Homo sapiens: one gene and its partners. The protein of the gene in region 1 purifies or fractionates together with the protein of each later gene. This does not show direct contact. Each region holds a gene or a part of one and is shown in the gene's direction. Other genes may lie near its edges. The genes, in order: GOLGA6L2, PRKAR2B, APAF1, CAMK2B and PAWR.

The links.
Region 2: the proteins of GOLGA6L2 (region 1) and PRKAR2B purify together in Homo sapiens (affinity purification with mass spectrometry; one large-scale study listed by BioGRID and IntAct). This does not show direct contact.
Region 3: the proteins of GOLGA6L2 (region 1) and APAF1 purify together in Homo sapiens (affinity purification with mass spectrometry; one large-scale study listed by BioGRID and IntAct). This does not show direct contact.
Region 4: the proteins of GOLGA6L2 (region 1) and CAMK2B purify together in Homo sapiens (affinity purification with mass spectrometry; one large-scale study listed by BioGRID and IntAct). This does not show direct contact.
Region 5: the proteins of GOLGA6L2 (region 1) and PAWR purify together in Homo sapiens (affinity purification with mass spectrometry; one large-scale study listed by BioGRID and IntAct). This does not show direct contact.

What each region holds. Positions count from the first base shown.
Region 1 is NC_000015.10:23,441,215-23,444,541, reverse strand, and holds part of GOLGA6L2 (golgin subfamily A member 6-like protein 2), read left to right. Parts: intron 1-41; coding exon 42-71; intron 72-329; coding exon 330-380; intron 381-468; coding exon 469-765; intron 766-2,033; coding exon 2,034-2,092; intron 2,093-2,421; coding exon 2,422-2,563; intron 2,564-2,859; coding exon 2,860-3,327.
Region 2 is NC_000007.14:107,156,035-107,160,008, forward strand, and holds part of PRKAR2B (cAMP-dependent protein kinase type II-beta regulatory subunit), read left to right. Parts: intron 1-949; coding exon 950-1,015; intron 1,016-1,151; coding exon 1,152-1,290; intron 1,291-3,414; coding exon 3,415-3,548; 3' UTR 3,549-3,974. UniProt on the Homo sapiens protein: Regulatory subunit of the cAMP-dependent protein kinases involved in cAMP signaling in cells. Type II regulatory chains mediate membrane association by binding to anchoring proteins, including the MAP2 kinase.
Region 3 is NC_000012.12:98,662,092-98,666,065, forward strand, and holds part of APAF1 (apoptotic protease-activating factor 1), read left to right. Parts: intron 1-364; coding exon 365-477; intron 478-583; coding exon 584-715; intron 716-2,959; coding exon of another isoform or gene 2,960-2,988; exon of another isoform or gene 2,989-3,267; intron 3,268-3,461; coding exon 3,462-3,700; intron 3,701-3,974. UniProt on the Homo sapiens protein: Oligomeric Apaf-1 mediates the cytochrome c-dependent autocatalytic activation of pro-caspase-9 (Apaf-3), leading to the activation of caspase-3 and apoptosis. This activation requires ATP. Isoform 6 is less effective in inducing apoptosis.
Region 4 is NC_000007.14:44,315,507-44,319,480, reverse strand, and holds part of CAMK2B (calcium/calmodulin-dependent protein kinase type II subunit beta), read left to right. Parts: intron 1-3,974. UniProt on the Homo sapiens protein: Calcium/calmodulin-dependent protein kinase that functions autonomously after Ca(2+)/calmodulin-binding and autophosphorylation, and is involved in dendritic spine and synapse formation, neuronal plasticity and regulation of sarcoplasmic reticulum Ca(2+) transport in skeletal muscle.
Region 5 is NC_000012.12:79,587,109-79,590,375, reverse strand, and holds part of PAWR (PRKC apoptosis WT1 regulator protein), read left to right. Parts: 3' UTR 1-3,267. UniProt on the Homo sapiens protein: Pro-apoptotic protein capable of selectively inducing apoptosis in cancer cells, sensitizing the cells to diverse apoptotic stimuli and causing regression of tumors in animal models.

The sequences.
Region 1 (3,327 bases):
GGGGGCCACCCTCAGTCACCTTCCTTTGACTCTCCCCACAGACACAACAGAACCGAGCGCAGCTGAAAGAAGTAACGTGATTTGTTTGCTCACGACATGACTGCTGGGTTTGGAGGGCACTCAGATGTAGAGGCCCGTCTCATCTCGCCTACTCCCAGCTTGGGGAAGAAGGCTCACCGCCAAGATTCCACCCCATCCCCACAGGGTCCCTGATAACCTGGTCCCATGGGTGCGCCTGTCCTGGGGCATTGGTGCCATTCTGGGGGCATGTCTCTTGCTGTGGATCTCTGCCTCCCCCTAGTAAGAGCTCTGTCTTCCTCTTTCTATAGGAAAAGAAGGCAAGCCACCAACATCAGGAAGCCCTAAGGCGGGAGATAGAGGTGAGTGGAGGGTGTGAAGTTCCCTCCTGTCCTCTGGAGAAGGTTTTTTTGCTTCTCTTTCAGCACTTGCTTGTCTTTTCTCCCAAAGGCCCAGGATCATACAATACGAATTCTCACGTGTCAGAAAACTGAACTGGAGACAGCGCTCTATTACAGCCAGGATGCTGCCAGGAAATTTGAAGATGGGAACCTGGGCACCCCATCATCCTTCAACCTGGCACTTTCACAGGCCTTTAGGGGGAGTCCTTTGGGCTGTGTCTCAACCTCTCTCATTCCAGGAGAGTCCAAGGATCTCGCCGGCCGCTTGCATCATTCCTGGCACTTTGCAGGAGAGTTACAGCGGGCTCTCTCTGCTGTGTCCACATGGCACAAGAAGGCAGACAGGGTAAGTCCAATCACCTCCCCAGTCTCCTGGGATCCCAGCTTCGCAGATGGAGGAATGAGCCTAAAGGTCCCTCCTGCAGGATGCAGTGTCCTGCCCAGAAGATAGTATGGGTCATTTCTTGCTGCTTTTGTGTGTGGTTATTAGAGGCAGGTTGGGGCTGAGTCAGCTGCTGTGGGTGAGTTGGGGGGCACTGTGGGGAGCGAGCACTGGACACAGAGCTCCAAGGCCAAGAGCCTGCCCTGCCCATACTTGGCTGTGGCCTTGACCAAGTCCTAGGCAGGGGTTAAGGTATTTGTACCATGAAGGTACAGAAGAGTATCTTTAGTATGTTACCATTTGTGTAGAGAGAGGGAACACACATAAGTGTGCATGTGCGTGTGTGTGTGTGTGTGTGTGTGTACGTATTATGGTAACATACATAAAAACATATTTGTAAGGATTCATAAAAAACTCAGGAGACAGGAACAGTGTGTGTGGGGTAGATATTTCCCTTCTCTACCTTCTGAGTTTTGGACTATGCCAATGTATCGTTCTTTCAAAAAGTCAACAAAGGATTAATTTCCTCCTTCTTATCTGTGCCCCTACCCCCAGGGAAAGAATGGGCTTAGAGAATCAGATACACCTGGGTGTTGAAATCCCAGCTCTGTCAAAGTGATCTTAGGCAACCATTTAACTTTTAATACCCCATGTTTTGCATCTATACAATAGAGGTAATAATGGTAACCGTCTCCTATGGAGGTTGTGAGGATTAAATGGGATTGTTAGCATAGTGCCTGGTGAAGCACTCAAGAAAGGTTCCAACAGTGGCAGTAATAACAGTAATAGCAATAGCAATATTATCTGATCTCTCTGGGCCCCTGTTAGCCAGCTATCAATTCAGTCTCTTTCCCTGTCCCTTCTACCCTTACTGAGTTCTCTGAAAAACAAGTGAGAGCCAGGTGTGGTAGCGCATGCCTGTAATCCCAGCTACTTAGGAGGCTGAGGCAGAATTGCTTGAACCCGGGAGGCAGAGGTTGTCATGGGGCGAGATTGCGCCATTGCACTCCAGCCTGGGCAACAAGAGCAAAACTCCATCTCTAAAAGAAGAAAAGGAGAAAAAAAAAAAGAAAAAAAAATGAGACCATGGGCTTGGAATTGCCTTGAGAACATGTCGGGTGTGATGGAGAGTGAGGGAGTGTTACTGTGGAGTATCAGTGTAGCTGTTGTTCCTGGTCGGCCAGCTGCTCTTCTGCCTGCTCTGTCCTGACTTAACCTTTCTCTATTTGCAGTACATCGAGGAGTTAACAAAGGAGAGGGACGCCCTGAGTCTGGAACTGTACAGGAACACGTAGGATGGGGGAAGGTGGGATGGGAGGTCTGGGGGCCCTTAGCGTGGGTGGTGTGCTGGGAGGTGGGGGGTACAGGTGAGCATGGTAGGGGGTCATACAGGTTTACATGTGTGCACAGGGAAGCTCTAGTGCCGGCTGTGCCACTGACTCATGGGGTAGCCTCAGGCAACTCATGTCTTCTCTCTGGCCTGCCACCTGGGACTTTTAATTCCTGGGGTCCCTTCCAGTGCCACGGTTCTGTGCTTGTGGGGCGAGAGTAGAGGGTTGATCACCAAAGCAGTCCTTTCTGTTCTTCGTTCATTCCTTTCTCTACTGCCTCGGGCCATAGCATAACCAATGAGGAGCTGAAGAAGAAAAATGCCGAACTACAAGAAAAACTTCGACTTGCAGAATCTGAAAAGTCTGAGATCCAGCTCAACGTGAAGGAGCTAAAAAGGAAACTGGAGAGGGCCAAGTTCCTGCTGCCACAGGTGAGCGGCTGCAGCCCCAGGGGTTGTGGGAGACCCATCCAGCTAGGACCATGGTCTAGGGATCATGCAAGGTATGGGGAGGGTCCAGCCAAGAGCTGGAAAATTTGGGTCCTTGTTCTGGTCCCACCATAGAATCCTCTAGAGTGTGCTAAAAATCTACAAATTTGGGGCCCTGCCTGGGAAATCAGAACCTCAGTGTTAAGGCTTAAAAATTTTTTTTAAAGAATCATAGATGAAAACTGTTATTTTATAGATTACATTTATATAGCTAGTTCATAAGTCTATTTCCTTTTGAGGTTCAAACCAACACTTTGCAGGAGGAGATGTGGAGGCAGGAGGAGGAGCTACGGGAGCAGGAAAAGAAGATACGGAAGCAGGAGGAGAAGATGTGGAGACAGGAGGAGAGACTGCGGGAGCAGGAGGGGAAGATGCGGGAGCAGGAGGAGAAGATGCGGAGACAGGAGAAGAGGCTGCGAGAGCAGGAGAAGGAGCTGCGGGAGCAGGAGAAGGAGCTGCGGGAGCAGAAGAAGCTGCGGGAGCAGGAGGAGCAGATGCAGGAGCAGGAGGAGAAGATGTGGGAGCAGGAGGAGAAGATGCGGGAGCAGGAAGAGAAGATGTGGAGACAGGAGGAGAGGCTGTGGGAGCAGGAGAAGCAGATGCGGGAGCAGGAGCAGAAGATGCGGGACCAAGAGGAGAGGATGTGGGAGCAGGACGAGAGGCTACGGGAGAAGGAGGAGAGGATGCGGGAGCAGGAGAAGATGTGG
Region 2 (3,974 bases), on another chromosome or scaffold:
CATAAGTGGGAGTTGAACAATAAGAACACATGGACACAGGGAGGGGAACATCACACACCGGGGCCTGTCAGGGGGTGGGGAGTGAAGGTAGGGAGAGTATTAGGACAGATACCTAATGCATGCGGGGCTTAAAACCAGACAGGTTGATAGGTATAGCAAACCTCCATGGCACATGTATACCTGTGTAACAAACCTGCATGTTCTCCACATGTATCCCTGATTTAAAGTAAAATTTTAAAAAAAGGAAAAAAAAATTAGCTGGGTGTGGTAGCACATGCCTGTAATCCCAGCTACTTGGGAGGGTGAGGTGGGAGAGTCGCCTGAATCCAGGAGGTGGAGGCTGCAGTGAGCTGAGATTGCACCACTGCACTCCAGCCTGGGTGACAGAGCGAGACTCCATCTTGGGGGGGAAAAAGAAAGTATTATTTCAAATAATTTTACAAATGAAATCATTACTACATAATTGTCCATCAAAACCTCTTCATTTAGGGCCGGGCTCGGTGGCTCACGCCTGTAATCCCAGCACTTTGGGAGGCCGACGCAGGCAGATCTCGAGGTCAGGAGATCAAGACCATCCTGGCTAACACGTTGAAACCCCGTCTCTACTAAAAATACAAATAAATTAGCCGGGCGTGGTGGCAGACGCCTGTAGTCCCAGCCACCCAGGAGGCTGAGGCAGGAGAATGGTGTGAACCCGGGAGGTGGAGCTTGTAGTGAGCCGAGATCGCGCCACTGCATTCCAGTCTGGGCAACAGAGTGAGACTCCGTCTCAAAAAAAAAAAAAACCTCTTGATTTAGAAACCGAGACAGCTTGTTCCCTTAGGATTTCACTTTTCAGGTGAATATGTGTACTTTGGGGTTGGATCAATTTTAGGGATATGAAAGGTAACAAGATTGTTGTCAATTAATTTGCATTTTCACCGTCTGTTTTTGTTATTGATTCCAATAGGGAGATTCGGCTGATTCTTTTTTCATTGTAGAATCTGGAGAAGTGAAAATTACTATGAAAAGAAAGGTAAGCATTCTAAGTCCTCAGAACCCACATACTGTTAGCAAGGAACACAACAGATCTACTTTTTGATGTTTAGACTGAGGTTAATTTTATTTTTCATAAGCTGAGGAAAAGCTCATCTTTTTAATTGCCTTGTCAGGGTAAATCAGAAGTGGAAGAGAATGGTGCAGTAGAAATCGCTCGATGCTCGCGGGGACAGTACTTTGGAGAGCTTGCCCTGGTAACTAACAAACCTCGAGCAGCTTCTGCCCACGCCATTGGGACTGTCAAATGTTTAGGTAGGGATTGCAACAGTGGGCGTGCTTCTGCTGGTTGAACTTATGTCTGCATTTTATGTATTCATGTTGAGTGAATCATTTTATTGGGTTCACAGGTTTTGTGGTCCCCACAAAAGGTAACAAGATTAGGACTCATTGCCTTATAAAATCAATTTGTGGAAGCCATTTTTTCTTCGAAATTTTTACATCCAGATACATTTTGCTCTTCTTGTGTATATATGAAATAACATCCCATATTAGTCATTAAAATAAGAGTTCCAAGTACCACGTTTTATATGGAATCTCTCAAATAAGCAACATGTGCTATGTTCCTCAAAAGAGAAGGCTAAAGTACTATTTTTATAAAGTCCGTTATTAAGATCTGCGGGGAATGCTGAGATGTTGTGAGAATCCTTACTCATTACAGTATTGGGACACAAAGGTTCAGGTTTGTCAAAGCACAGTCAAATGTTCTTTGCTGTTCAGTTGTTATTACTATTTTACCAGAGTAGCTTGGCAGAAATGTCATCTTCAGGTGCAGGCATCTGTATATATCTGAGATTATATATCTGAGAAATCACTTACTTTGATAAGAAAATACAGTTTAGAAGGTGGCAATATGGAGGGTATTTTAAGAAAATTGATCTCACAGTTATTACCCTCTCTGTGCTTTTCATCCATAATTCAATAGCATAAACTTAATGTTTTTAAGATTTGCAAGGATCCTTAGAATTAACTTCTTAGAGAAGTCATTCTTTAAAAGGGTTTAAATAAGTATAATATTAATCAAGTGTTAAATTTGGATGGAAGAGAAGACGATTAGAAACTGGCAGGTAATTTCCCTAAGTAGGGCTATTAGAAAGAGTAAAGGTGAGTGAGTGAAAGTCTATTAGAAATAGTAAAGGTGAGTGAGTGAAAGTCTATTACAGTAAAGGTGAGTGAGTGAAAGTCTATTAGAAAGAGTAAAGGTGAGTGAGTGAAAGTCTGTTAATTTTTTTTCAATAATAGATTATTATACTCACATCAAAGAAAACCTGAGAAATACAGAAAATGTAGAAAAAACATAACACCGCCACTCAGTGATTTCTGCTATTATAATTCCTTCTTGTCCTTTTTATTTGTGTGGGCTTCCAGTTGTTAAACAGTTTTCCAAACAACTTTTAAAGTTCATTATCGCTTAGGAATGTTCTTATTTTATTACACCAAATTTTAAAATTCTTTTAGGTAAATATATACACGATAAATTAATCATTCCTTAGTGGTAAATACTTCGAAGGTTTTGGCTCCAACTTTTTTGTGGGGAGCAATTTTTTGTGCATAGAAGACTTTTCTGTATTATAGGAGTTTTCCTTAGAAATGGTTTTCAGGAGTGGGTTTTTAAAAAATTAACTTTTGACACATATTGCCAGATTACTTGTATTTGTACACTACTAGCAGTGCCATAATGCCCATTCACCCTATTCTTGTAAACATTGCCTTTTTTATCTTTTTATCTTTAGTGTAAAAGGCAAAGAAGATCTATTTTAATTTGTACTTTTATGTATAGAGTATGATCATATTTTCTATTTATATATTATAAATCCAGTTTTAAAATCCAGGAGACAGGCAAGCAAAGTGATTTCTAGCATGTACTTATAGAAGTAAACAAAAGCATTATGTCAGCTGCCATTTTTGGATTGCATAGACATAGTATGGCAGCAAAACTTACAAAAGGTTAACACTTGGCCTTCACAACATGGCATTTTAAACCCTGAGAAGGGAACACAGGATAGAAAACACTCTTGTGCCACCCTTGAGGAGTTCACATTGCTAAGGTGGAGACAGCACATTTATTTTTTAAAATTCTAAGGTCTTTCCATGATAGTCCCTCATTCTTTTCTCAGCTTGGACCAGGAACCTCCCACCAACTTAGCATTGCTCATCATATTGCCGAGGGACTGCAGAGTGTGGTCCAAGAGCGTGGCCCTGGCTGCTTCCTTTTTCAAGTGGAACATTTTTATCATTATGCTTTTTCTTGTATTTTATAGTATTTACCTAAAATATCATTGCACTATTGATATATATGGAGTCGGTATTGTAAATGACTTAGAAATTCTGCAGATTTGCAAAGAATGTTATTTAAAAAAAAATCTTCTCTTTTCTCAGCAATGGATGTGCAAGCATTTGAAAGGCTTCTGGGACCTTGCATGGAAATTATGAAAAGGAACATCGCTACCTATGAAGAACAGTTAGTTGCCCTGTTTGGAACGAACATGGATATTGTTGAACCCACTGCATGAAGCAAAAGTATGGAGCAAGACCTGTAGTGACAAAATTACACAGTAGTGGTTAGTCCACTGAGAATGTGTTTGTGTAGATGCCAAGCATTTTCTGTGATTTCAGGTTTTTTCCTTTTTTTACATTTACAACGTATCAATAAACAGTAGTGATTTAATAGTCAATAGGCTTTAACATCACTTTCTAAAGAGTAGTTCATAAAAAAATCAACATACTGATAAAATGACTTTGTACTCCACAAAATTATGACTGAAAGGTTTATTAAAATGATTGTAATATATAGAAAGTATCTGTGTTTAAGAAGATAATTAAAGGATGTTATCATAGGCTATATGTGTTTTACTTATTCAGACTGATAATCATATTAGTGACTATCCCCATGTAAGAGGGCACTTGGCAATTAAACATGCTACACAGCATGGCATCAC
Region 3 (3,974 bases), on another chromosome or scaffold:
TTTTGGTGCTTAAAGACTGAGTTGGAAAATCCCATTACTTGGATAGTAATGGTCGCTTTTTTTTTTTTTTTTTTGGCACTCAGTAAGTGATGGCTGAACCTTTTATGGTAGGATCTGTAATTTTAATATGTTCTGATTTAGGGTTTGAGGAGAAGGCAGTCTCTAATTTTTTTTTTCCTTATTTGAATCAGCATATTGAGAAGAGTATAGCAAAGAGGAAGAATCATTTTCCTAGATCTAGCCATCTATTTGTTTTAAAAAAAATTTAATTTGGTAGATTTTAAAAGACACTGGTGGGATTATCTTTTTAAAAGGAAGCTTAAGATAAGTGTCATTAGTGATTAATATTTTTTTTTTAAATTAGGTCTCTCTTGATCTTGGATGATGTTTGGGACTCTTGGGTGTTGAAAGCTTTTGACAGTCAGTGTCAGATTCTTCTTACAACCAGAGACAAGAGTGTTACAGATTCAGTAATGGGTAAGGATTATTCGTTTACTTTTTAGTACCTTTATATTTAATTTAATTACATTTAAATATGTGACATACCAAATTACTTACTTTGTCTTGTGATTTTTGTTTGCAGGTCCTAAATATGTAGTCCCTGTGGAGAGTTCCTTAGGAAAGGAAAAAGGACTTGAAATTTTATCCCTTTTTGTTAATATGAAGAAGGCAGATTTGCCAGAACAAGCTCATAGTATTATAAAAGAATGTAAAGGTATGGTTATTTATTTGTTTATGAGGAGATTATAGGGAGTTATATAATTTCCCTTTTGTTAATTGAGCTAATGAATATGGTAATTTAGCACATGAACATCCAAAAACTTTTCTGGGAGATTTAGTATTTTAGGTTCTCTGATATCTTAAATGGATACATGATATTATGGTATTTATTTATTCATTAAAATAATATTTACCATCTACCCACAGTGTGTTAGAGACCACATTAGTGAGAGAAGTGAGACACAGATGTGACCTCTGCTGTTAGAGTTAAAAATAGAGTGAGAATCAGATTTTAAAACTTGTTTTTGCTTGGGATTTTATAAAAATAGTGTTCTAATTTGGTAAGTAAAAACTGGTGTCTTAATTTGCATTTTTTTTTAGCGAAGTTAAACTTTTTACTTGTTTATTGAATACGTTTTAAGAAGTTATCCTTGACTTTAAGAAATTATCCTTGACTCACTTTTCTTTTTTGATATAAGTATTTTTAATTTATTTCTAAATACTCAAAAAATAGAAACTATTAGCTCTTTGTCATATTTTTACAAGTATTATTTCCCAGTAAAACAATTTTTTAACTTAAAATTTATATATAGAATCTCGCTGTGTTGCCCAGGCTGGTCTTGAACTACTTGCCTCAAATGATCCTCCTGCCTTAGCCTCCTAAAGCACTGGGACTACAGGCATGAGTCACCATGTCCAGCCTGTTACCCAGTTTTTTGTGTACCTTTTATTTGTTGTATTCTTTTGACATATAGAAGCTTAAAATTTTAAACAGTCAAATCTATCAACTCTTAAAATTATTTCTTTCATTATTGTTATGCTTGGAAATACCTTATTTTTCTTCTTTTTCTTTTTTTTTCTCTTTTGAGACAAGTCTCACTCTGTCGTCCAGGCTGGAGTGCAGTGGCGTGATCTCGGCTCACTGCAACTTCTGCCTCCCAGGTTCAAGCAGTTCTTCTGCCTCAGCCTCTCGAGTATCTGGGACTACAGGCATGTTCCACCATGCCTAGCTAATTTTTGTATTTTCAGTAGAGACGGGGTTTCGCCATGTTGGTCAGGCTGGTCTCGAACTCCTGACCTCAGGTGATTGCCCGCCTCAGCCTCCCAAAGTGCTGGGATTATAGGCATGAGCTACCATACCTGGCCACCTTATTTTTCATTCTGCCATCAAATAGACACACAGTTTTGTTTGTTTATTTATTTATTTATTTATTTTATTTATTTTTTGAGACGAGTCTCACTCTGTCGCCCAGGCTGGAGTGCAGTGGTGCGACCTCTGCTCACTGCAACCTCTGCTGCCCAGGTTCAAGTGATCCTCCTGCCTCAGCCCCCTAGTAGCTGGGATTACAGGTGCGTGCTACCTCACCCAGCTAATTTTTGTAGTTTTAGTAGAGATGGGGTTTCATCATCTTGGCCAGGGTAGTCTTGAACTCCTGACCTCGTGATCCACCTGCCTCAGCCACCCAAAGTGCTGGGATTACAGGCGTGAGCCACCACACGTGGCCAGTTTTGTTAATTTTTAAAGAAATCTTACACTTAGAAAAAATGCTTAATTTGTAGTTATTACAAAGGGTGATGCATGTCCATTTTGAAAATGTGTGAAACTAAAAAAAAAATAGAAATTATCCATAACCTGATAATTATTAGCATCATGAGAGTATTGCCTCCAGTCTTTTAGAACAAAGATTTAAAAAGTTGAGATTATGTATATGTGGTTTTGGATTTTGCCCTTTTTTTTTTAAAGAGCCAGGGTCTTGCTCTGTCACCCAGGCTGGAGTGCAGTAAGATCACAGCTCACTGCAGGCTTGAATGTCTTGGCTTAAGCAATCCTCCTGCCCCAGCCTCCTGAATAGCTGGGACTGCAGATACCCACCACCACACCTGGGTAATTTTTAAATTTTTTTGTAGGGACAGGGTCTCACTATGTTGCCCAGGCAGGTCTCAAACTTCTGCCCTCAAGCAATCCTCCCACCTCAGCCTCCTGAAGTGCTAGGACTACAGACACATGTCGCCACACCCAGCTGGATCTTACCCTTTTTCTATATCTTGAGCATTTTCCCATGTTGTTAAATATTTTTTTGAAAAAAATTTACCAGTGGCATAATATTGATATATCTTAATTTATTCAACCACTTCTGTATTATTGGACATTGTTTACGTTGTTTAAGATTTTTTCACTATTCTAAGTGTGCTGTGATGAATATCCTTAAACTTAATCATTCTTTTCTTTTTCTTTAAGACAGAGTCTCACACTGTTCCTCAGGCTAGGATGCAGTGGTGCTGTCATGGCTCACCGTAGCCTCAACCTCCTGGGCTGAAGCAATCCTCCCACCTCAGCCTCCTAAGTAGCCGGCACTATAGGCACACACCACCACACCTGGCTGATTTTTCTAATTTTTATTTTTAGTAGAGACAAGGTCTCATTATATTGCTTAGACTGGCGCATATATATATATATATATATATATTTTTTTTTTTTTTTGTAATGACATCTTAGCCAGATTTGATCTATGTTATTTTGACTTAATAAAGATAATCAGGAACTTACTGAATGAAATCTTTCTTATTTCTAATTTTTTTTGGGATAAATATCTAGAAGTGAAGTCAAGAGTGATAAATACTTAAGGCTTTTGATAACATGCAGCAGAAATTGTTTCTTAGTAATGTAAGTAAGTAAGTCGATTCTTATTAGTGACAAAATAGGATGGTATTAGCATAGTGACTTCATTTTTTTTTTAAAGGCTCTCCCCTTGTAGTATCTTTAATTGGTGCACTTTTACGTGATTTTCCCAATCGCTGGGAGTACTACCTCAAACAGCTTCAGAATAAGCAGTTTAAGAGAATAAGGAAATCTTCGTCTTATGATTATGAGGCTCTAGATGAAGCCATGTCTATAAGTGTTGAAATGCTCAGAGAAGACATCAAAGATTATTACACAGATCTTTCCATCCTTCAGAAGGACGTTAAGGTGCCTACAAAGGTAATGGGATCAATGATCCTCATCATTGGGTATTTATTGCATGTAAGCTTTGATATAGTACTGAGCATGTTGTTACAGAGAACCTTGGAAGGATAAGACCCAGGGGACTGAGGTGGTGGGGTGTTGGGTGTAGAAATCCCTCTGCTGTTAGCTTCCATTAAGGGCTTTGTGTTGAACTCAGGAGTTAACCTATTTCTGTGGTTCTAGTGCAGCTGAAGAAGCATCTGACTTCTCTTTCTCTTTTCTATCTTGAGGAGTAGCTGAGTTTCTTCTT
Region 4 (3,974 bases), on another chromosome or scaffold:
CGAAGAGCAGAGGGGAGAGATATGCAATGTTTAGGTTTTGTATCTTCTACTTAAAAATTCTAACAGGGATGTTTCCCTCATTTTTGCTCCATTGGCCTTTAAAGAGTCTATATTGAGCCACCCTAGAATTTAACAGTAATTTACTAGAAGAGACCAGGTGGAGATAAGTGTGCAATGTCTGTCCCTGGGAAGACCACTCCCATTTCCCTGTGTTCCGTGATGCCACCTCCCTCATCCAGGCAAGAGATGTGGCCTTTCTGGAGATTTTAAATATATTTTCAAAAAATTTAATTCTCTCTCTCTTCCCCCACAAAAATTGAATCTGATTTGATTATTTTTAAAGCATCTTTTACAGCTGCAAGTCACTTTGTTAGTGTAGAAACATAAAAATGCATTATGTATCAACTTGGTTTTTAAAAAATTATCATATTGGCATATTACACAGATATGTATATTTTATTCATAGAAAAACTTGAATTTATTTAAAATGAAAACATCCTTTTATGTTAGAGAAAGGTGGTGTTGCTAGCTGCCAAACTTTTGGGTGGCTTTTGTCTCCTGGGTTAGAGGGTCACTTGTTGAGGGCTCAGTTCCTGGTGGACATAGTTCTTTTTGTATTGACATAATTATCCAAAAATAACTTAAGTTATGATTCTTTGTTAAGCCAGACAGAAGCTTTTGTTGAATTCTAGAACAGATTGGCAACAACCAGGCAAAGATTTAAGAAGATTTTATGGGAGGAAGCATAATGGCACACTTGTACAGGGTGGAATTTGGGACCCACAGTCCTTGTTTCCTCACTTTGTGAGCAGCAAGAGAAGCCTGGAGGGCAGGAGCTGCTGTCGCCCTTACAATGAAGTACTGCAGGTGTTATGCCTTTTGCTGTAATGCCCTCTGGGTGTCAAGCACATCCCAGTGAGTGCCGTTTCCAGCAAGGAGCTGAGGAGCCTTGATTCTGTCACCCAACACACCCTGAATTCAAGTGCTGAGAACAGTGCCTGGCACACAGTAGGTGCTCCACAGTGACTCAGCAATGGTCTGGGTCACTCAGGCCTTGCACCTGGGACTGCTTCCCAGAGCAGTGGCACACCCACCCTGTAAAAGATGAGGGCCTTATAAGAGGTATTGGGTGGCTCTGCAGGTAGGTCTTGCGGGTATTCTGATGTCCAGTCTGGGTAGACAGTCTTGTCACCCGGTGAAATGCAGTAGCAGGGCTGTCAGCACTTATATGTCTGTCATGGAGCTTGACTCCAAGAGGCTTGCAGCTTTCAGCTAATTTCTTAATGAGGTTGTTCACATGACTTCTTGTTTGTTGAGGTGCTGCCTGATTCTCAGCGTCTGTGAGTTTGATCCAGGCCATTAGTTAGGGGCTTTCTGGGCAAAGGGTAGGAGTCTGGTTAGGAGCAGGCCCTCCCAAAGAAGATGACCATGTGGTGGTTCTCAACCCCAACCACACATGGGAAGCCCCTGAGGAGTGTTCAGGCCCCATCGCATTTAGCCAGACACTAGGGAAATGGGGTATCAGCAGTTTTTAAAAGCTCCCAGGTGATTCCAATGGGCACTGCATACCTAGACTCTGCAGAGGAGTCTGCACCTGAGGCCAGACACTCGCCTAAGCCCACACTCCTTCATATAACCCTTGGTTCTTTCAGAGCCCACCTAGGCATGAATTTGAAGTTTACCTTCATTTTCTCTACATTCACAATGACATTACTACCCCACCGCCCACCCCATCCAAGTTGTCGAGAGCTGCATTGTCCAGAAGAGATAAAATGTGATACAAAGTTGAGCCATATGTGTGATTAAAAATTTTCTAGTACGTAAAGAAAAAAAAGAAACAGGTGAAAGGAACTTTAAAAATATATTTATTTAACTTTATATCCAAAATATCATTCAGAGGCCTGGTGCGGTGGCTCGTGCCTGTAATCCCAGCACTTTGGGAGGCCAAGGTGGGTGGATCACTTGAGCCCAGGAGTTAGAGACCGTGGGCAACATGGCAAAACCCCATCTGTACAAAAATTAAAAAATCATTTCAACATGTAATCAAAACAGAAATTATTAAGCTATTTTGCATTCCTTTTTGTACTACGTCTTGAAATCTGGTGTGTATTTTACCCTTACGGCACATCTCAGTTTGGACCAGGTTCTTATGACTACATGGTGACAGTGACCACAGTATTGGACAACACAGGGCCAGAGCTTCAAAATCACCATGCTTTTTTTTTTTTTTTTCATTTTTCCTGGTTTCTTTTAAGGATAATAGTTACAGTCATAGCTGTCTTAGTCTGTTCCAGATTTCTTTTGCTCTCCTGAAGACTTATTCATTTATTCAGCAAGTCTGGTTGCCTGTACTTACCATGTGCCATAGGTGCTTGGGAAACAGTAGTGAACAAAGCAGTCAAGGATGCCTGCCCTTAGGGAGCTTATATACTGCTGGATAGAGGCAGGCAATAAACATAAATACTAAAAAAATTATATGATAGGGTAGAAGGTGATTAATACCTCTGAGAATAATTAAGAAGACTCAGGAGTGCTAGTTAGGAGGAAGGTTATTATTATAAAAAGGATGGTAAAGCCAAGAAAAAAGAAGACTCCAATTGCTAAAATCAGGAATGACACAGGGGACCTTACTGCCAACCTTACAGAAAAAAAATTATAAGGAAATAACTATGAATAATTATGTGCCCTCAAGTTAGATAACCTGGATGAAATGGACAAATACTTAGAAAGACACAAACTACTGAATCTGGCTCAAGAAGAAATAGAAAATCTGAATAGACCTATAACAAGTAGAGACTGACTTAGTAATTTAAAATTTTCCCACAAAGGAAAGCTTAGGCTCAGATAATTTCACTGGTAAATCCTACCAAACATTTAAAGAAGAATTAATACCAGTCTTTTACAAGCTCCCCCAAAAAGTAGAAGAGGAGGAAATTCTTTCCAATTCATTCTGTGAAGCCAGCAATACCCTAATACCAAAACCAAAGATATCACAAAACTACAGACTGTTATCACTTATGAATGCAGATGAAGCATCCTCAACAAAACACTAGCAAAATAAATCTAGCAACATATAAAAAGGATTATTTATACATTATGAACAAGTAGGATGTATCCCAAGAATGAAAGGTTCATTCAGCATACAAAAATCAATCTATATAATACACCACGTTGATAGAACAAACATTGAAACTATATGAACCATTTCAATAGATGCAGAAAAAGCATTTAAAAAAAAACCAATACCATTTCATGATAAAAACTCAACAAATGACAAGTAGAAAGGAACTTCCTTAACTTGATAAAATACATTTGTGAAAAATCTGCAGCTAACCTCATATTTAATGGTGGAAAACTGAATGTATCTGCTCTTTCCATTTCTAGGCAGCACGGTATAGGAGATTCTAGCCAGGGCAATTAGGCAAGAAAAAGAGATAGAAGGCTCCCAGATTGGAAATAAATAGTTATAGCTACCTCTCTTTTCAGATTACATGCTTTCGTATATAGAAAATCCTAAGGAATCCATTTAAAAAACTATTAGAACTAAAAAATGAATTTAGCAAAGTTGCAAGATGTAAGACCAATATACAAAAATCCATTGTATTTCAATGGACTAGAAGTTCAAAATAACAAAATTAGGAAAAACAATTTACAATAGCATCTAAAAAATAAAACACTTAATACTAAATTTAATAAAAGAAGTACAAGACTTGTACATTGAAAACCACAAACCACTGTTGAGAGAAATTAAAGAAGACCTAAATTAATGGAAAGACATCCCATGTTCATGGATTGGAATATTTAATATTGTTAAATAGTAGTATACTCCAAATTGACCTACATTTTTGCTATGAAAATTCCAGCTGCGTTTTTTGCAAAAATTGACAACCTGGCCCTAAAATTCACATAGGAATGCAAGAGACCCAAAATAGCTAAAACAATCTTGAAAAAGGAGAACAAAGTCAGAGGACTCA
Region 5 (3,267 bases), on another chromosome or scaffold:
TACAAAATTAGCCAGGTGTGGTGGCGCATGCCTGTAATCCTGGCTACTCAGGAGGCTGAGGCAGGAGAATCGCTTGAAAACCCAGGAGACAGAGGTTGCGGTGAGCTGAGATTGCGCCATTGTACTCCAGCCTGGGCAAGAAGAGCGAAACTCTGTCTCCAAAAAAAAAAAAAAAAAAATTATTAATACTTTTAAAGACTGAGCTGTTTAAGAATTTTTTGGGGAACATTTCTAGCAGTGATTTTTTTGGCCTTTAATGATAGCGTAAAGACAGGAGCCTTACAACTTAGGCAAAGCATTTCACATGCAGTCCTTCTTCCATCTCAAAATATGTACTTATTTTACATACAGAATTTTACACTAACCATTGAAAAATAAAGTAGGATCTGCTACAGTTTCACCTGAAAATTTATAAAAAGTGTTGAGATTGGTAGAAGGTAGTTTTTAAGTACATGTGCACTACCCTAAAAGACTTGTCTATTGTCAATAAAGTGTTAGTATTTGTGAAATTATTATTCCTGTTCAGAAATACTATTTCTTAAATCTCCTGGGAATTTGTGGCATAATAAAGCACATTCAAAGTTCTAATGTATTTATGAGCTCATTTTCAAAATAGTAAGTTTGTCATCTTTAAAATGAACATGACTTGCCTCCTTGATTTCTGAAATGAATTAATTGAAGATTGCTATAGTAATCTTTATTTCATCTTTCTAGAGTTGTTGACAATTTTATTATACAACAGTTACCATTAGAGAAGGAGGGAAGGGCTTTTGGGTGTGTATTTATAGGTACTAAGGGATTTACTAAATATAGTAGATTAGCACTGTCACACTTGTTCAAGTAGTTTCAAACATAGAAAATTAAGTATCAGGTATGTGGAGCAATGTAGTTTTTTTTTTTCTTCAGTTTAAAAAATTTTTAATTGTGGTAGAAGCAATGTATTCTTAAGGTGAAAAACCTACCTCGGTTACATGTGGTTTGTGTTTTTTGGATTAATCTGGATTTTATAATTAGAAATAAAAATGTAAGATTTTGAATCCACTTAATTTCTTGAAAATAGTACAAGTCAGTGTAATAGAGAAGCATTCATATATTCAACACTGTAAGACAAAACAGCAGAGACCTTGGATTTGATAATTGATCTGATATCCTGGACAGTATTCATATGTACAGTGATAGGTATCTTTCTTTGGAGTTTTTTTTTTGTGCATATGTGTATAGTTTTATGGGTTCTGAGTTGGTGACCAGTAAGTTGCATGTAGTGCTGGCACTTACTTAATAACTATTCATGATATTGTTAATAACTTGTTATAGGATTGTATTCCCAATTACAGTCTCTAAGATTGTAATTGATATTATCTGAGAGGTAGTGTGACAACTTTCTTTTGTTGTTACATTAAGCCGAAAACATAATACTAATAGACAACTAACAGTTTGCTTATCAGGCACATCAACTAAGGCACCTCCCCCCATGCTAAGTTTCTCCTGGATATATGGAAGTTGATTGTTTCCCAGTTTAAAAACTTGAACTAATATCTCCTAAGAAAATCTGAGTCCATATTGTTTTTATTTTACTTAGCTAGAATCTCATAGCATGTTAAAGTCATATCCTTATCCCCACTAAAAATAACTATGTCTATGTGAGAGGAATATAGTATGTGGGAGCTGTATTAAATACTATTACAGGTGTTACAGAATCTTTAAATAAATGGACATGGACCAACTTTCCATCTAGTAGTGTACGATCTATATAGTGCATGTCAGTAGCACAAAATGCAGTCTTAGCATTAGCCTGTCTAATCTGAATAGTTTACTCAAAAGTACTTCTTTGTGTTAAGTATTCAGCCACTGTTTTTAGATCTAGTTAATAGGTTCTATTTAATTTGCTACAACATTTACTGAATGGTGGAGTGAAAAAACTGATGCATACTGGGAAATATCTACCATTTTTTAAAGATAATGTTAATTAGGAAAAGAACACTTTTAAGGAATTTATAGCAGTGATGAAATGAATTCAGTTATATCAGATACACCAAACTGTTGATGGTATTTAAATGTGACTTCAAGTTAGTATTTCTGTATATATTATTGATTACTGGTTTGTTTTTAGATATGTAAGTCTGTTCTAATCTACAGTTCACATATCGACAGTTACTCTGGTAATAATAGAATGTTAGTGATGATCACTTGGTGGATGTTGATTAAGTGCCTGTGTTTTGTTTCCTCCTCTGGATACCAAATAGGTGTATGCTACTTTTTTGGTGAACTTATTTCTTGGAAGATTTGGCTATGCTATTCAGGGTTTTTATTCTTATGTTTTTCTTCTAAATTTAAGTAGCATCCTGCTGCTACCATATTAAAGCTAAAATTTAACTTTTGCTGAAGAATCAGCTAATTCAGGTAATCCAAATATTTGTGGAAAAACATCTGGATAATTTATTGAACACATTAGTATTGTGTTAGACAGCTTTGATCATTCCCATTTCATAGGTTTTTATTGTGGAATAGTCAACTTAATATAGATTCACTTTCAATTTGCATGTATAAAGTAATACTCAATAAAATTTTTTTCATTTATTTTTCAACAGTGGTTATTTTTTTTCTTCCTGTACTATCAGTAAAATCCTGACTATGAGTTTTACTTTTGAAGCTAAAGGATAATGCTGGTAATCTAATTATGTACCTCTTACAGAAACCATATGCAGCACTTTAAAAATCTTTATTTGGTATATTATTTTAGGTGGACAATGATTTAAGACTCAAAGCCATCATATTAAGGTCTAAATACATTAGTGGTGGGGTTTCTCGAATAAATGAGGAAGTGCACAAAAGTTCAGCCTGACTGAAAATTTTAATTGTGTTTTAAAACTACATGAATAATTTCTTGATTCAAAATCAGAACTCTTATAAACTAAATCTGATGGTGTCCAAAGAATTTCAGGTCCTTCAAAGTTTGTAAAAGATAAGTAGGGGCCTAGGAATATAAAAATTTAGACTTTTTTAGTAAATGGTTTACATAACCTTTTGTCTTAATTTGTCATTCTTCATACACAGGCACAAGCTAATCAGTCTTCTCTACTTCTAGAACTCTAAATCTTCTCAGTAATGTCATACAAGTCTAACAAGAGGAAAAGCATCCTTAAGTCAGTCTATTTAGATAAACTCTTCAAGTCCCTATATAAGGACGTATTCCACTAGCAAGCCAGTAAATTTTTCCAAGGTCACATAATCTTACATGAAATGGAACCTTTCATCTTAGACTTCATC